Regions from separate parts of the Homo sapiens genome. Here region 1 is reported to be linked to region 2. Evidence: microRNA targets listed by miRTarBase, many of them from high-throughput screens and not tested one by one. Region 2 holds a microRNA gene; the other region holds the end of a gene's coding sequence.
The links. The annotated mature microRNA hsa-miR-185-5p reads UGGAGAGAAAGGCAGUUCCUGA and lies in region 2 at 1,923-1,944, shown strand. An mRNA with a match to its seed (bases 2 to 7 or 8) in the 3' UTR can be bound and repressed. Matches are read on the target gene's strand: a 7mer-m8 pairs with bases 2 to 8, a 7mer-A1 pairs with bases 2 to 7 and ends in A, and an 8mer does both.

Region 1 (3,124 bases), not on the chromosome of region 2:
AGAACTAAGTCATTAATTTTATGTAATTCTTATCTTTTTATTTTATGCACCAATTAAGAAATAAAACTAAGTTACATGGAGGATTCCACTTTACATTTATATTTTATAATTTATAAAACTGTCATATCTATATATAATAAGGTTGAGGAAGTGATACTGACATTAAAAAAATAACTTCCTGCTGCTGTGAAGAATAATACCAATCTCAATTTTGAAGTCAAATGCTAGTATTTTTTTTTTCTTTTCTAATCTTGGATCTAATATAGAGGAGGTAGATGAAGAGCAAGCAATGCACTTTTCTTCATGATAATACCATGACATTATTAAGCTTATTCCTTTCCCCTTTGAAAAAAAAATTAGAAAGGAAAATGTTGCAAAGAATATGAACAGCTTACTGTACTTGGTCAATGTAGCATTACAATTTGTTTTTTTTTTAATCCTCCGGGAAACTGGTACCACCTGTTCAACCTGAATTCAAGTAGTTACTGTCAATTTTCTCATGGGTGAATGCTGCCTCTTTGTGGCAGAATGCCATGGAAATTGTTCTTTAAACACAAAGTTCATGAACAGCCCTTGATATTGTACAAATTCCAGGTGAAACTATGGGGAGATCCACCTATAGCAATGAAGCACATAATTGAAACATTTCTTATCCTTAAATTGTGTCTAAACTCACTAGAAAACCTTATTCAAAGATGACGAGCTCATATACACCATTTTGAGCATTTAGAATACTGATCAACTTTAGATAAGGAATCCATCATAACTGTTGAAGGTAGTTTTACACAAATTAAAAATATGAAAACTATGGAAAACTGTAGACTGAATAAATAATACTGATATGACAATTACATTGTATTAAGAGAAAAGTGAATATGCGATATATTACTTACCATGCTCCACGTAGTAGATGAATACTTCAGTAAGGAAAGAGTGTATATAATTGAAACTGCATTAATAAACACATTAAGCGACACATTTAGAAAATCATACTTCCCTGAACCAACAAAGGAATAAATTACTTATATATGTCATGTATGTTATATATATATATACTATATATAGTATATATATACTATATACTATATATATACTATATACTATATATATACTATATATACTATATATATACATATATACTATATATACTATATATATACTATATATATACTATATACTATATATATACTATATACTATATATACTATATACTATATATATACTATATACTTTACAATTTTGCTAATTAGGGGAAACACATTTTGTATTAGGAATAAAGTTTAGGAACTATTTCCTAAATTGTTAATGATGGAGATTCTATCAATCACACATAGTTAAGTCTTTTGCACCTTAAGTAATCATTACTTCCATCCCTCATATTTGACATAGTTATCAAGTGTTTATTCAGAAACTATTTAAAAAATTACATGTGCTGGGATACATATGAGACTGTAACAACAGTAGCCCCATCTTACAGATATCCTGTTTGTCATTATCATCATTGCTTGCTGCCCACAGGGATAAAGACATTGTATAGAGACTTGTACAGTCCATGATTTGGTCTTCTGAGGTGCCAGTACACGTGGATCTGTACAAATGCAACTGGGTTTGGTTAAACAATCGAAAATCGGCTACAATAGTAGTCAAATGAACATGTCATTTTGGTTCATTAATAAAAATACTTTCAAATATTTTCTAATAAAACCCAAAACTTGCAAACAATTCTCTCGGAATGGCCCAATCAATTGCCCTATTTTTTAAAATACATTGGGATACAATCAGCTCTGTTTTCTTAAAAGAAAATGCAGATTCAATTGGGTGGGTTGCATTGGCTTTTAAAGATTTAGCCATTAAATTCTCCACATTTTGAATGATTGAAAATGCCTTCCTGATACCACGTCAGTTTTAGAAATGCAGATCCTAATACAGTGTGACACCTCTGCAAAATCATAGGCTAAATAGTGAAGGAAAGAGGAATGCTAAATGTGCATATAAAAATAGGTGCTACAATAAAATATTTGTATATTTCATCAATAAGTTATTTTGACTAATCAATTATGGATCATATAGCTCTGTAATTTTAATGATTTGTCCACATCTATGGTGATCCTTTACAGGATCACAATACTTTTTTTTTAATTCAAATGTCCAGAATGCATACAAACACATCCTTTAAAAACAAAGAAAAGGAATGAGAAGGGAGGGGAGGGGAGGAGAGAAGGAGAGGGGCGGAAAAAGAGAACAAATTTCCTATTAAAGTTGGGGTGTGCTAATTTCTCCACAAAAGCCAGTTAGACCCACCCATGGCTTAAAAGGGGAGAAAGAGAGGTGGGGCAGGGGCGGGGGAGGGGGAGGAAGCAAAAGAGGAAGAGTAGAATCTATGCTCTGCCATCATCCACCATTCTTAGCACTTCCAACCACTACAAAAATGACTGTGACCTTTCACAGGTCACCCGCGCAGCAAATTGGCCTCCTTAAAGCCCTTCTCCACACCTGCCCCACACGCAAGAAGAGAAAGTGATGTGCCCAGTTTACACAAATGTTTCCCACGTGTAAATTTTAAAGGAAATTGCACACCCTTTTCGTATCTTCCACCGAAGCTGAGAAATCCCGTGCCAAGGCACTTCACCCTAAACGTTGAAACAACACAATTAATCAAATGTGTTCACTGTGTGTGTCTGCTTGCTTGTTTGTTTTAAATGCAAAAGCTCCAAGAGAGTTTCTTTGCTTTTAGAACTGGCTAAACGTGGTCTGTTTTTCCAGCACTTCGAGGTAGTCCGGCTCAACGTTTAGTTTTGCTTTTAACTCCAGATATTCGTTCCGGTTGGGTTCTACAAAGACAGCACTCGGGGGGCTGTAGAGCACCGGTTCCCGTAGCCTGCTGTCCCCTGCCCCCGGGTGCAAATACTGATGGGGGCGTCTCAGGTCATAGTTGGGGGAGAAAGTGTAAGCAGCGGGGCTGCACGGGAATTTGGGATATTCCGGGAGGCTATTGCCGGCGGGGGTGGTGGAGCAGTGTTTGTCTGGTTCTAAAATGCCCCTGTAAAAGCGGTCGGCGTCCTGCACCGGCGACAGCAGGTCCTCCCGGGGCTCGATGGTGCTGACGCTGTAGGCGGGGCTCCGC
Region 2 (3,124 bases):
CAGCTGTAATCTTAGCTACTTGGGAGGCTGAGGTGGGAGGATGGCTTGAGCCCAGGAGTTCGAGGCTGCAGTGAGCTATGATCACACGACTGCACCTGGGCGACAGAGTGGAGGTGATGTGCTTCCTCAAATAGCCATGAGAACAACGCTTCTTTTCTTGTCCTGGCTCAGGAACCTCACCACCATGCCACGTTGCCCTGCTGCGCTGTGCTGGTGTCGTAGGTCGGTGGCAGGACATTTGCCCACCTCACAGGCTCTGCTTTCAGTCTTGAAGTATGGCTCCTCTCGACTGCTGCCCACACGGCCTCCTGTTGTCAGCCTGGGCTACATATCTGGGCTCTTCCATCCCTGTGGGCCTGGTGAGGCCTGGCCATGTGCCTGTGTCATGCCAGTTGCTTTCAAGATGATGTTTCTAGTAGGACCACATGTGAACACAGTGACCACCATGGCCAGGAGGAAGCTGGCTGCCCATCACCAGCTTGCCCAGGGACCTCTTGCACCCTGGCGGGGATCAGCAGATCCTGCTATGAGAGAGCAGAAGGCAGCATGCTGACTTCCAGGAGTGTCCACAGCGTGGCTGGGCAGAGCAGAGCTACAAATGAACAGATCCAGTGCCGAGGCCATCCTGACTCTCTCAGGGGCTGCCAGGCCGTGGGTGCAGGGTCCAGCAGGCCCACTTGATCCCAGCATCCCACGTGTGCCTGCTCGGGGTGGCCAGCTCACTGCTTCTTCACCTCTAGCCCAACCAGCAGGTGCCCCACCATGAGCCCCTCCAGGCTCACCTTGCCCATCCCTGCCATGTGACCTGGGACTCTTGAGATGAGATCACAGCTGCAGAGCACACAGCACAGGGAGGAGCTCATCAGCATCTTCCCACCTGTGGTGCCCTGGCCCAGCCTCCTTCCGGTTGGGGTTGGACCCGCCCTGGCAGCCAGGTTTTGCGTCACCTGCCCCACCCGCCCTGTAACCTACTTGCCCAACTGCTATCCCGGTGGCCGTGAGGCCAGTTGACAGAATGGAGAGGGGTAAGCATTTTCCGCCTGGAGAGGATGGGCGTGTGGCCATCTGACTGCTTCTGCAAGCCTGGTGGTTGTGTGCAGGCTGCCCTGGTGGTCTTAGCCCCTTGGGGCAGGCGGGGTCCTGTGCAGGATGCAGAGACTGGGCGTGGCTTCCTGCAGATGTTCAGATGCTTCTGGGCTGTGGCCTCTGAGACCCAGGGCAAGGCTGCTGACTGGACCCCAGACCCTCCTGCCTGCCTCTTCCTCCAGCTGCTCTTTGTGGTCTGGTTCTGGCCGCCTGGGCCTCAGGGCCAACCCTGCATGGCTTTGACCACTCTGGCCTTCTTGGACTGCCAAGGACATGCTGAGAGTTGGTTGGGCTTGGCCCAAGTGCTGAGCCCAGGGCAGGGGTGGGGACAGGCAGGGCGGAGCCTCACCTGGAAAGCCAGGCACGATTCTCCCTGGGACACCAACCCTCCTGTAGAGTTGGCCAATTCGGGCAACCTTGAGGGCGAGCTCTGTGTGGCACAAGAGATGCCCTGAGGAGCCCAGCCTCACCTGGTGTGATGGGACCTGTGGAAGTTGTGGGAAGTGGTCCTGGCCACCCGTGTGCCCACATGCCCTGCGCCCAGATCAAGATATGGTGACCAAAAGGACAAGGACTATATCCATGGCTCCCTCCCAGAGCCTGGCAAGTCAGCAGGCATGAGAGGGTGTTGGAATGCTGTGGTGGGCCTGTGTGGGGACCTTGTAGGACCTAGGGAACCTGCAGGGCTTGGCTTAGGGAGCACACAGGGGCCCAGGCAAAGGCAAGGTCACAGGTCGGGGGAGGTGAAGCTGGCAGGGGGAGGGGGAGACCTGCTGGCTAGAGCTGGGTTGGGGGCCGGTGGGCAGTGGGCCTGGCTCGAGCAGGGGGCGAGGGATTGGAGAGAAAGGCAGTTCCTGATGGTCCCCTCCCCAGGGGCTGGCTTTCCTCTGGTCCTTCCCTCCCAATGACCGCGTCTTCGTCGAGGCCACAGCCCTTGGCTCTGCGCCCACACCTCCAGTGCCAGGCTGTCCGGAGATCTGTTTATGGCCTTCCCTTGGACCATGGAGCCCTCCCTGCCACTGGTGCCTGGAGGGCTGGTCTGCTGCCCCTGCACCCTGGCCAGCTAGGATGGTGGGGTCCTGCAGCTGAACTGGGGGTGCCTTTCTGCCTGTCTGTCCTACGTGTATCAGTGGCCAGAACTGCCCTCATCCATGGCCTTGCCAGCAGCTGGGCGTGCAGCCCAGGGAGGGCTGAGGTCGGCTGAAGTTGATTGAGACCAACGGCCTTCTCTAACACCCCAGAGGAGCATGTCCCTGGTGAGCAGGCCTTGGGCAGCCCTGGGCTCCAGGCCAGTGGGATTCCAGTAGAGACCAGCTGGCAGGGCTTCTCCAGTGACTGCAGCCAGGGGTTCTCATGTGCAGGAAAGACCAGCTCCTCCAGAGTAAAGGGACTTGTGTCTTCTGGCCACATGGTGAGTGCTGGGCCCACCCCATCAGTGGCACCTTGGGTGCACTCCCAAAGCCCAGCGTGTTCCCCATCTTCCTGCACTGCATTCGGGATGGTTCTGCATCATCAGCTGCACCTGATTGCTCTTAAACCCACAGCTGAGCTTTAATGTGCAGTCACTGAAGCTTTCATTTCTAAAATAGCTTCCTAAGAGTTCTTTTGGCCAGGCATGGTGGCTCATGCCTGTAATCCTAACACTTTGGGAGGCCGAGGTGGGTGGATCACCTGAGGTCAGGAGTTGGAGACCAGCCTGACCAACATGGAGAAACCCCGTCTCCACTAAAAATACAAAATTAGCTGGGCGTGGTGGCGCATGCCTGTAATCCCAGCTACTCGGGAGGCTGAGGCAGGAGAATTGCTTGAACTCGGGGGGCGGAGGTTGCGGTGAGCCGAGATTATGCCAGCCAGCCTGGGCAACAGGAGCAAAAACAAAACAACAACAACAAAAAAAAACCGAGTTCCTTTTGCTGCTTTGTAAACCCAGTTTGCTCTTCATCACTTCCTTTGCCCTGCAGATGTTTCTGAGCTGTCTGTTTTCTTTCTGCCATCAGAGCATGGTTGGTTGATGATGCATGTACGGTTATCTTTCTGC

Region 1: the mRNA of SLITRK5 is a reported target of hsa-miR-185-5p. Seed matches in the 3' UTR shown: 7mer-m8 at 2,213-2,219.

The regions. Positions count from the first base shown.
Region 1 is chr13:87,677,872-87,680,995 of GRCh38, reverse strand. It overlaps SLITRK5 (SLIT and NTRK like family member 5), which reads right to left. Exons shown (of 2, transcript NM_001384609.1): 2 at 1,380-3,124. The coding sequence ends at 2,731. LOC112268106 (a long non-coding RNA gene) reads right to left here and starts at 1,056. Exons shown (of 3, transcript XR_002957486.2): 1 at 894-1,056.
Region 2 is chr22:20,031,231-20,034,354 of GRCh38, forward strand. It overlaps MIR185 (microRNA 185), which reads left to right and starts at 1,909; the gene lies at 1,909-1,990. All of the region lies in intron 1 of TANGO2 (transport and golgi organization 2 homolog), which reads left to right. RefSeq lists enhancers at 1-619, 1,054-1,273, 2,957-3,026.